Linked DNA regions of Homo sapiens. The protein of the gene in region 3 interacts with the protein of the main gene of each other region in a pairwise test. Each region holds a gene or a part of one and is shown on either strand. Other genes may lie near its edges. The genes, in order: AKAIN1, DBF4B and ROPN1.

Evidence for each region.
Region 1: the proteins of ROPN1 (region 3) and AKAIN1 interact in binary tests that used the Homo sapiens proteins (3 or more experiments, as listed by UniProt).
Region 2: the proteins of ROPN1 (region 3) and DBF4B interact in binary tests that used the Homo sapiens proteins (3 or more experiments, as listed by UniProt).

What each region holds. Positions count from the first base shown.
Region 1 is NC_000018.10:5,142,264-5,145,266, forward strand, and holds the end of AKAIN1 (A-kinase anchor protein inhibitor 1), read right to left. Parts: 3' UTR 648-3,003; downstream 1-647.
Region 2 is NC_000017.11:44,706,659-44,710,414, reverse strand, and holds the start of DBF4B (protein DBF4 homolog B), read right to left. Parts: upstream 1,751-3,756; 5' UTR 1,595-1,750; coding exon 1,576-1,594; intron 1,564-1,575; exon of another isoform or gene 1,477-1,563; intron 1,116-1,476; exon of another isoform or gene 1,112-1,115; coding exon 1,049-1,111; intron 1-1,048. UniProt on the Homo sapiens protein: Regulatory subunit for CDC7 which activates its kinase activity thereby playing a central role in DNA replication and cell proliferation. Required for progression of S and M phases.
Region 3 is NC_000003.12:123,985,396-123,989,151, forward strand, and holds part of ROPN1 (ropporin-1A), read right to left. Parts: intron 1-3,756. UniProt on the Homo sapiens protein: Important for male fertility. With ROPN1L, involved in fibrous sheath integrity and sperm motility, plays a role in PKA-dependent signaling processes required for spermatozoa capacitation.

The DNA.
Region 1 (3,003 bases), on a different chromosome or scaffold from region 3:
GTGAGTGCAATCGGGAAATGCCAGATGCTTATAAAACCGTCAGATCTCATGAGACTCACTCACTTTGATGAGAACAGCACAGGGGAAACCGCCCCCATGATCCGATTACCTCCACCTGGTCCCAGCCTTGACATGTGGGGATTGTGGGGATTACAATTCAAGGTGAAATTTTGGGTGGGGACACAGCCAAACTATATCAAGATTTCTCAGGCTACACCTTAGTTTGAGGTTGTGGCAATGAGATAAATGAGGGAATTTGTACTAATATCTTTCGAAAACTTTCACATGCTCAAGAAAGATATTATTACCGTAATTTCCTCTTTCCTGTCTCTACATCTGTTTTGGTATTATAGGGGCTAAACTAGTTTCAGATTTTTCATAGATTTTATTATTTTACTGTATTTTACTAGACTAAGCTATTACAGTGGATAAATTAAAGATCCCTCTCTTTTGTATTGTTTTATCATAGAAACCTTAAAACAGCCTGGAAGATGGCCAGTTACTCATCTTTGAATGGCATAAATTCAATGATTATTTTTAAATGATAGATTCATTTCTTTGTAACCTGAAATTCCACCATAAAGGAAACCTAAACGGCTAAAAAATAAATAAGAAAAGAAATGAAGGGAACGAGTTAGTCATTTTGCATCAATTTACAATACTGTTTGCACTGAACAGATGATTACAGCAGAGAAAAGTAACATGAAAGGATTTCTTTCTTTAGATCCACCCTAGGGGCAGGCAACAGAGAAGACGAACAGCTGAACACACAGAGATGGGAAGCCTGTGTATGCAGTAAATCAGAAAGATAAAGGACACTAAGTAAATGTTCCCACTCATTTCTGAAACTAAAAGCTGTGATCTGGTTTATGATGATAATCAAGTGGAAATCCACCTTAATCCTATGTCAAATGAAGTTCTGTAGGCCCCTTGTAAAATCTAGTAACTTTTTCTTCATACTGAAAGATCTGTAAAAGTTTATAGGTCTTTAACTCGTTTGTTTTTATGACTGAGCTTTCTTAGAATTTTGCCAATATGGCACCTACCTATTGAGGACAGGCATTGCTGAACCTCCTTTTGTCCTCCCAACAACTTAGTCATATCTCTGTTCCTTGCTGTCGATTTTCCATCTCAAAAATTATGGCAGACACTCTACCTTCCAGACCCACTTACCTTGAATTTTTTAGATCAAAAGACCACTTCTTAGCATACATCCTTTTCTCTTCAAGCCTCAGGACCCACCATCCCATGGCTGTCCTCACACAGTCACAGTGAAGGGCCCATTAAGGAAGCACTTCCCCTGGTCATGATATCTAGGGGTTTGAAAATAGCCTTGGAAGTCTCATGGTTCCAAATAATGGTAAGATCCACGTACAAAATGAGCCAAACGGCAGAGTCTAGAAAACTTTGCTTAAGATATTTCAAAGCTGTATGTGTTTTATTTATAAATAACATTTAGACACAGAGGTCAATAAGATGTTCCAAAAATTCCCAATTTTTTAGTACAGACACATCAGAGAGGAAAAATAGTATGTTTATATGTTTCTGTCACTTGACAGCAAAAACAAAGGCTGGTCATATCCAGATATCTGAGTAGACATAGTACCAGATCACTTACAAACTACAAGCATTAGATTTATTTATTTATTTTATTTGTGGCACTCCTGAATAATTTCCCTGAATACCTTCATTCTCACTATGTATGCTATGCAATTATATCACATCAGTTATATGACTTTTGGTCGACTTAAACTCACTCTTCACTTGGCATGAATTCTGCTAAAAGAAATACTTGTGAGTAAACAATCTTTAAATTTTAAGCCCTTCTGCTTCCTTCTCCTTCCATGTTTCCTGTGAATTTATTCCACCTGTGCACTGTGGGAGATAGCATAACAAAGCTGGTAAGATATTTTTCATTCATTATCTATTATCCAACTATTTATTCTAGAAACTGTAGCATATTGGAATTTTAGAAGTATATCTTAATATCAGTCACAATTTATACCCGAATACTTTGCTTTAAAAAAAAATCAAATGTAGATATTGATACTCTGAAACTAGAAGGTTTTTAACCAAGGTCAAATTCTTCCTCTGTCCCCAATAGCACCAATTCAATAACTTTTGTGAAGCCCAGGAAATGGGACTGTAGATACTCCAGAAATATGTGCATTATCCTCACAGAAGTGGAGCAGGGATTGATCCTGTTGCTGCACAGATAACTTTATTACACGTGTACACACACATATCTCTGTCACTGCATTCAAAACACTGTCACTTTACTGTCCCCATTGTGTTCTCATGTATTCCTGACCTGTATGATTTTCATAATCTCAAAAAAAAAATTTAATGTGTGAATGGGAAAAGTTAGTAAGGTCCTAATGCAAATGCATAGCCTAGTGGCAAAACAGCATTCGTTAAGGACCCCAGAATCCCTTCCAAGGATGTTGCACCCCATAATCAGCCCCAAGTGTAAGTCTCTTAATGATAGGCAGCTGTTGAAGAAATCTACACTTCTAGCCATTCTCCATGAGGCTGCTAAGGAAATGAGTCATTGGCAACTCACATGTGTAGACTCACTTGTCTTATTTTATTTAATCTTGAGAAAAGAAATCCATAATATTCCCAAAAGATTTCTACACAGAGCATAAACACCAATTATGAAATCATTCAGAGAATTGAGACTAAAAGACTGAGTTCTTGAGAAACTTAAACTCCTCCCTTTCTTAAAATAACATAAATATTAGTAAATGCCTTGGTATGGTCCCGAGGGACTCAGCCTTAGAATTTCCCTTTTCTTAATTTGATCTTAGACCTGAACCCACTTAAAGCCTTCAATTTCACATTTGAAGGTAACTAAAACTGCATTCCCTCACCTTTCTAGCATGTCTTTTTAATATACCATAAAGAACTCAGTACTGTATTCAGTATTTCAGCAAAAAGGCTGCTTGTTAAATTCACAGAAGGAACGCATAAAAGGCAGAAGTAAATAAACGAGACATAGAA
Region 2 (3,756 bases), on a different chromosome or scaffold from region 3:
ACTTAAATTTTACTACAAGGCTGAAATAAATATATTCTTAGTTTATCACACAAAGCCTCCTTTTGAAAACACTCTTGAAGTTCTCCAGAGAAACAGAAGGGGGAAAAAAAACCAACAAGAGATGGGAAGAATGAATAACTCAGTAAATGAAGTGGATTACTGTTTAAAAGGCAACAAGCCGATGGCATATCTGTTAACAATCCAGAAGTAAAAGTAGACGGTATTTTTTTTTTCTTTTTTTTGAGACGGAGTCTCGCTCGGTCGCCCAGGTTGGAGTGCAGTGGCGCAATCTCGGCTCGCTGCAACCTCCGCCTCCTGGGTTCAATCAATTTTCCTGCCTCAGCCTCCTGAGTAGCTGGGACTACAGGCACGCCTCACCACGCCCGCCTAATTTTTTGTATTTTTAGTAGAGATGGGGTTTCACTGTGTTAGCCAGGATGGTCTCAATCTCCTGACCTCGTGATCCGCCCGCCTTGGCCTCCCAAAGTGCTGGGATTACAGGCGTGAGCAGCCGCGCCCGGCCAACTAGATGATATTAACTAAAGGGGCAGTACGGAGGGAAGTGCCATGTGCTAAAATACTTACCTAATTAGGTAGCAGTGTTTAACTTAAGGATTTTATTGTAAACAACTATGAATGTATTAATTTATATATTTAATAAGTCACTCTATCCTGACTCCACATCTGTCTGTTAATCTTGTTCATAATATGACTCTTACTTGACCTTTATCATGAATCCCAAAACGGTCTATGATGCTGCGTCCATACACACACACACATAAAACCACTAAGTGGGCCTGGTGAAGTGGCTCACACCTGTAATCCCAGCATTTTGGGAGGCCTAGGCAGGAGAACTGCTTGAGGCCAGGAGTTTGAGACCAGCTTGGCCAACACAGCAAGACCCCATCCCAATAAATAAAATGAATAAATAAGTACATAAAAACACTGAGTGATCGAAAACTCCAACAGGGGGAACATTTTTCGGTCTTCTCCAAGAGACCCTGGGGCAATTTTCACCTCACGTCCCTAGTTCTGTCCTGTTACCCACCTAGGTCCGGGGCCCGGAGCCTACTCTCAGCCATGGAACTCTCCAGCTCGAGGCAATCGTCTCCTGAGAAAGGACATAACAGCAACTCAACCATCTTCACCAACCCTTGGAACTTCCATGCCTCCCGCCCACTACTGTCTCCCAAAACGCGCACAGAAACGCGACTCCTGGGAACAGCAAGACTCAACTCCATTCCGACCTACATCCCGCGACTCCCGCCAGGCTCTTGCCCCTCATGCCCTCCGCCTCCTTTCAGACTCCGTTCAGTCAACGGCCGTGACCTCTTGGCCACCTCCTGTCCATCTCAATCTCCATACATCCCTCCAGGCTGTTGTCCCCTACGTTCCTCTGCCACCTTCATTCCTCGGTCCCCTCAACTCCTGTGGCTCCTTCCCGGCCCCTATACCCTCCTCAGCTTCGGCACCTACCCGCTGGTCACTTCCTAAGCCCCCTCCACGACTCCGCACCTCGCCTCAGCTATTAACGACCCCTTCCGCCTTTCTTTCTCCCCTTCCCGGCATCCGTACCCTTTCCCGGTTCGCTCATCAAATGCCGGCTCCTTCTCGGCCTCCGTACTCCTTCCTCAGAGGCCTCCGTATTACATTCGCGAGCTCCATGAGCTCTTCCCGATTCCACAGTCCTGGTTATCTCAGGGCAGCTACAGCATCAATCTCTTGGCGTTTTCGGCCGCGGCTTCAGTTTAAATTTCCTGCCGGCTCCACCCCTAAAAGAACGCCGTAGCTGCGAGATCCGCCCTACGGTGTCCTTGGAAGGACAATATTAGTTTCGCGATTCCTCTTTCCGTTCCCCCACCGCCTACGTCTTCTCAAACCGTCTCTTCATTTCTTGGCTCTTCACTGGCTAGACGGCTTTGCCCCTTAATGGCCCTCAAGTTGAGGACTAGTGGTCGCTTTTTAGTGATTCTTCACACTGAGCTGCATTGAAATTCCTAGAAGTTTGAATACTAAATAACAAAATAAGCCTAACACTTGCAGAGCATTTGCAGTTTACATAAAGATTTCACTTACACATCATTTCATCTTCACATTTTTGTCCCCCTCCCGTTCTTCAATTATTACCTGCCCAACAAAACTTCTCAAAAGACGTATCTTTATCCCTCACTTCCCATCTTTTCTTCAACCCATCTAATTAGACTGCTAATTAGAGATCAAATTTGATCTAATAAGAGATCATTCAGTGGAGAGCTGGGGACCTCCCCACAAAAACTGTACTTATCCAGGTCAACTGTGATTTCCACAGTCTGAAATACTATCCTTATCATATCCAACTTATAGATGGACTATTCCTTCTTTGAAATACTTTCTTCTTTTTGCTTCCATGACTCAGCACTCTACCGTTTTTTTCCCTATCTCAATGGTTCCTCCTCAGTCCCCTTTGCTGGATCCAAAGCCACTGTTCACCTATATATTTTGGAGTATGCCAACGCTTTAGCCCTTATCCCTCTCCCTTATCTCCCTAGGAGATCTCATCCAGCTCCACAGCTTTACAATTCAGCTCTGCCACACCTTCAGATTTTCTGTAGCTCTGACCTGTCTGATCTCCAGACTCACATATTCAAGTGCCTACTGGCTATTTCAATTTGGATGTCTAATAGGCACCTCAGGCTGAACACATTCAAAACAGAACATTTGTTTCGCTGCCCCTGTCAAAAAACCACCTGTTCTCCCCCCAGGTCTTCCCCTCTCAGTAAAATGTTACTGTTTACTCAAATGTCACAATCATTCACCCAGTTGCTCAAACCAAAAACCTAGAAGTTGTCTTTCAGTACTTTCCCTTGTGCCCATCCCCACTCCAAGAAAAAAATCCTACTAACTCTGCCTCCAAAGTACATCTGGAATCAGACCACCACCACCCTAGTTCAAGCTGCTATCATTTCTTGCCTAAAGTACTGCGGTCAATTCTTCACTTCTACTCCCGAGTAGCTTCCTATCTCTCCCCAGTATAATCCATTCTCCATTCAGCAACCAGAGTGATAGTTTTTATATTTATTTATTTTTTTATTGAGAGGGAGTCTCGCTCTGTCGCCCAGGCTGGAGTGCAGTGGCGCAATCTTGGCTCACTGCAACCTTTGCCTCCCGGGTTCAGGCCATTCTCCTGCCTCAGCCTCCCGAGTAGCTGGGATTACAGGTGCCTGCCACCATGCCCGGCTAATTTTTGTATTTTAGTAGAGTCGGGGTTTCACCAGGTTGGCCAGGCTGGTCTCGAACTCCTGACCTCAGGTGATTCATCCGCCTCGGCCTCCCAAAGTGCTGAGATTACAGGTGTGAGCCACCGCGCCTGGCCCAGGGTGATATTTTTTAAACACTGGTAGAGGTATATACAGTACATAAACTTGGTATCTCTTCCAGTGGGACTCCTCCCTGAGGAAGCTTATACATCTCAGCCCTGATGAACGAACGAAGCCTTGGCCATATGACTTGCTTTGGCTCATGAAAAAAGAAAAAAGTGACATCACTTCCAAGCAGAAACTTTAAGAGGCAAGATGGTTCAGCATGTTCTTTTTTCACATGTGTGACAGAATTTGTATAATAAAGGTATCTGCCTCAGCATTGTTTGCAATACCAAAAGATCAAAAGCAACGAAAATATTGATTAACAACGGGCAGTAGGTTAAATAAATTATGGTGTAGTCATACTGTGCAACACTATGCAACTCCAAAAAATGAAAATACTTTAAAATATAAATGT
Region 3 (3,756 bases):
TTTCTCTTATTTTTCACATTATTTTCTCCTAACAAAGAAGTTATATGATTTTTCTTCATCATCACCATCACCATCATCATCATCATTTGTCCCTAAGAAAACAGTAGATTTTGTTCACTTTTTTTCCCATTGTGACTTGATTTGTTTGTGACTTATTTATTCTTGGCTTTTGATGTTAAACAAATATCCAAAATCTGATACTTAATGGACTTTTGTAATGACTTGTTTGTTTACAAAAATAATAAACATTTGCCTCTAAAAAAATAATAGAAAATAATTTAATGATTTAGTAAAGGAGACTCTAGGCCTTCAGTAAAGTCTTATAAAAATATTTTTTGGCTGGGTGCAGTGGTTCACGCCAGTAAACCCAACACTTTGGGAGGCTGAGGTGGGCGGATCACTTGAGCTCAGTTCAAGACCAGCCTGGGCAACATGGTGAAACCCTGTCTGTACTAAAAATACAAAAATTAGCCGGGCATGGTGGCACATGCCTATAGTCCCAGCTACTCAGGAGGCTGAGTTGGGAGGATGAGGTTGCAATGAGCCAAGATCACACCGCTGTACTCTAGCCTGGGTGACAGAGCAAGACCTTGTCTCAAAAAAAAAAAAAAAAAAAAAAAAAATCAAAATATTTAAATTATACTTGAAATAAATGATATTTATATTTTGTGAAAATCTAGAATTGTAATTACTAAATTAAATAATGTTTCCAAAATTCCCCCTTTACTTACCAAATGCTTAAGTTTTCAAAAATTTCATGTGATTTATTTAAAAATATTCTTAAGGACAGCCATATTTTCTTTGAAAACTGATTTGTTGTAGTCAAAAAGGCCTATAGTCTCCTTAAGTACTTTATATATATTATTTACTTTCCATCATAAAAGGTAATTTAAAATTAAATATTAATAATTTTTATTAATATTATTACAAAAATGGTTTCCAAAGTCCTCAGGGACATACAAAAGTTCCTGAAATGACCACACAGTGGCAGAGGCAAGGCAGCTATTGTGGGGAGCAGGGGTCCCTGATGGAGACTGTGTGTGCTGTTGCACTGGAGGTGGTGTTGAATGGGGGTGGGGTGCTGGCCGGTGCAAGTCCAGGTGACTTCTCTGTGTCCTGCAAGCAGGGGTGGTTGCTTAGGGTGGAGGAGGATCTGCTGTTCTCTGCACAGTGTTAGCACGAGGGAAGGTGTTGGCAGGGGTGGTGCTTGCTGGTTCTGTACCCTCCAAGGCTCTGTCTGCAGTGGCAGTCAGTGGGGGTCAGCAGGGGTGGACTACACTCTTGTGTGCTGGCGGGGCAAGTAAAACAAAACCTGCCTGTGCAGACATGGGCCAGCAAAGTGATGTGGGTAGTTGTTGTGGGCTCAGGGAAGCTGTAGTATGGGGAGGGAAAGTACTGGCTGCAGCATGCAGCCATAGGGGCCACCTTGCTGGAGCTCTCCACTGATCAGGCATGGTCCACCAGTGCAGAAGCTATGGTGTGGACCCCCAAGGCACCTGAGACTGCCCTGTAAGCAGGCATGGCCAGGCTTGTGCCTGGAAGAGGCCAGCAGACCAAGGGGTGCTCAGATCAGACCAGCCCCATCTGATGAACAAGACCGCCCTGCAGAGATCAGGTCCAACAGTTCCCCTACAGCTAAAGTCTCTTATTGGAGCAAGTTGAGCCTAGTGGAATGGCCATCCCTGGCCATGCTGTACTACAAACACTCCCACACCAAACTCTCTGGGGTCCACATCAGCTGGCTTGCTGCCCTACTTCTCTAAGCAGCTCTCCCTGCCACCTCAAGTTTCTGTGGTGACTGAGGGGTCCCCTCCTTCCAGGGTTCCAGTGGACCCTGGTGAGAGCAGGTTGCTCCTTGCTAGTTCAACTCACTCGTTCCCCCAGAGCTGTTGTGGTTCAAAAATGAGCTTCAGTGTATGGTAGCCTGTATGGGGTTCCCAGCTTTCTCCCCCTTCAGCCAAGCTTCTGTGCCTTCCCTCTGTCCACTGTCTGTGCCTTCCCTCTGAAGACATGTTAAAAGCACTCCAGTCATCTCAGTTCCTCTGTGGGAGCTGTTCCACTTGTCTGCGTCTAGTTGGCCATCTTGCCCTCCAATAAAATTTCTTAACCACTCATGTTTTTACATAACTCTGAAAAACGTTTAATGGATCTTCATCTCTTTTCTTATAAAAATTATGCCCTGTCTGACTTTCAAGATCTCCCCAATTTGCCTTATTCGTATTAACTTTCCTTCTTCAACTGTGTTTCACAGAAGCCTGGATCTTTTTCTATCCTGAGACAAACCCATGGCCAAGTCAACACAGCATTTGGATGCCAACAGCAATATTGCTAAGAGCAGTCCTACTTGACCTTGTCCTTTTTTTGAGTAGTAGTTTTTGGCTTTATTAGCAAATTTCCCAAACTTGCTTATATATCATGCTAGTATTACCTCTTGAAAGCATGAGTTCTACATGTTTATTATTTAACAAATGAATAGGTACCTCTTTTGGTTTATCTAAGCCATGCTCATATTTCAAAGATTTCCCTCGTGTTCATTCGCATCATCATCCACAATTCTAGGGACACATGGCTCATTTACAGACTGGCATGTAAACTATGTCCTGTAAAGTTGTGCAACATGGTTCCCTGATTTGGGGACCTGGTGTACACACTTGGGTCACCTTAGCCCTGTCTTATATAAGAGTATGAAAGTCTTTATTAAGAGTAAGTGTCATAATACCCCACACCATTTTCATCTTTTACTTGTCCTTCCTACATTTTTTTTTTTTTAGATGGAGTCTTGCTCTGTCACCCAGGCTGGAATGCAGTGGCATGAGCTTGGCTCACTGCAACTTCCACCTCTTGGGTTCAAGCAATTCTCCTGCCTCAACCTCCTGAATAGCTGGGACTACAGGTGTGTGCTGCCATACCTGGCTAATTTTTGTATTTTTAGTAGAGACGGGTTTTCACCATGTTGGTCAGGCTGACAATCAGGTCAGAAGGACAATCAGAAGTTGTCCTTCCTACTTCTGATTTCATTATAGCATTCCTGTGAGTCAGAGATTTAAAACCTACAAGCAAGGGCTCTGAGGGGGTGAATGCACTATAGTTTCCAATATAAGATTAGGGCTATGTTTCTCTTCAGTTTCCATTACCATTCCTGATGATATTCAGCATTGCACTGGCCTTTTCCAAAGCAAAACATAGGGCTGCTATCCTTCGTAGCTAGTTGTGGCATAACATCTAGAGGGCAGATGAAGCTGTAGTGAAGAAGCACTCTTGACTGTGAGGCAGGAGTCCAGGATTTTGGCCCTGGGTCTATTTATGACTAATTATGTGATCCTTAGGAAATCATTAATCTGACAAAATTTATGTGTTTTATTGGAATTGTGCTGAATACTGGGATACATGAATAAATAAGTCACACACTCTGCTTCATGGAGCTCACAGTCCAGTGGAAGAGAGTGACAGGAAAATCAGTGACTCAAAGAAGGTATAATAAGTGTCAAGAAGCCTGCACTAGATATAGAAGAACAGAAGAAAAACAGAAGAAAAACTCTTGGATGAGGCATCTAACATCTGCAGGTATTAGAAGGAGGTCAGAAAATACTTTTCAAAGAGTGGTGATATCTGAGATATCTGAACTGAGACTTGGAAAAACCTGGTTTGTTCATTGCTGTACTGCAAGCCCTCAGAAGACAGCCGGGTACAGGGCAGGTATTCAGTAAGCATATGTGTACTTATGAGAGTAAGGAGAGAATTTCATGTAGGTAGAAG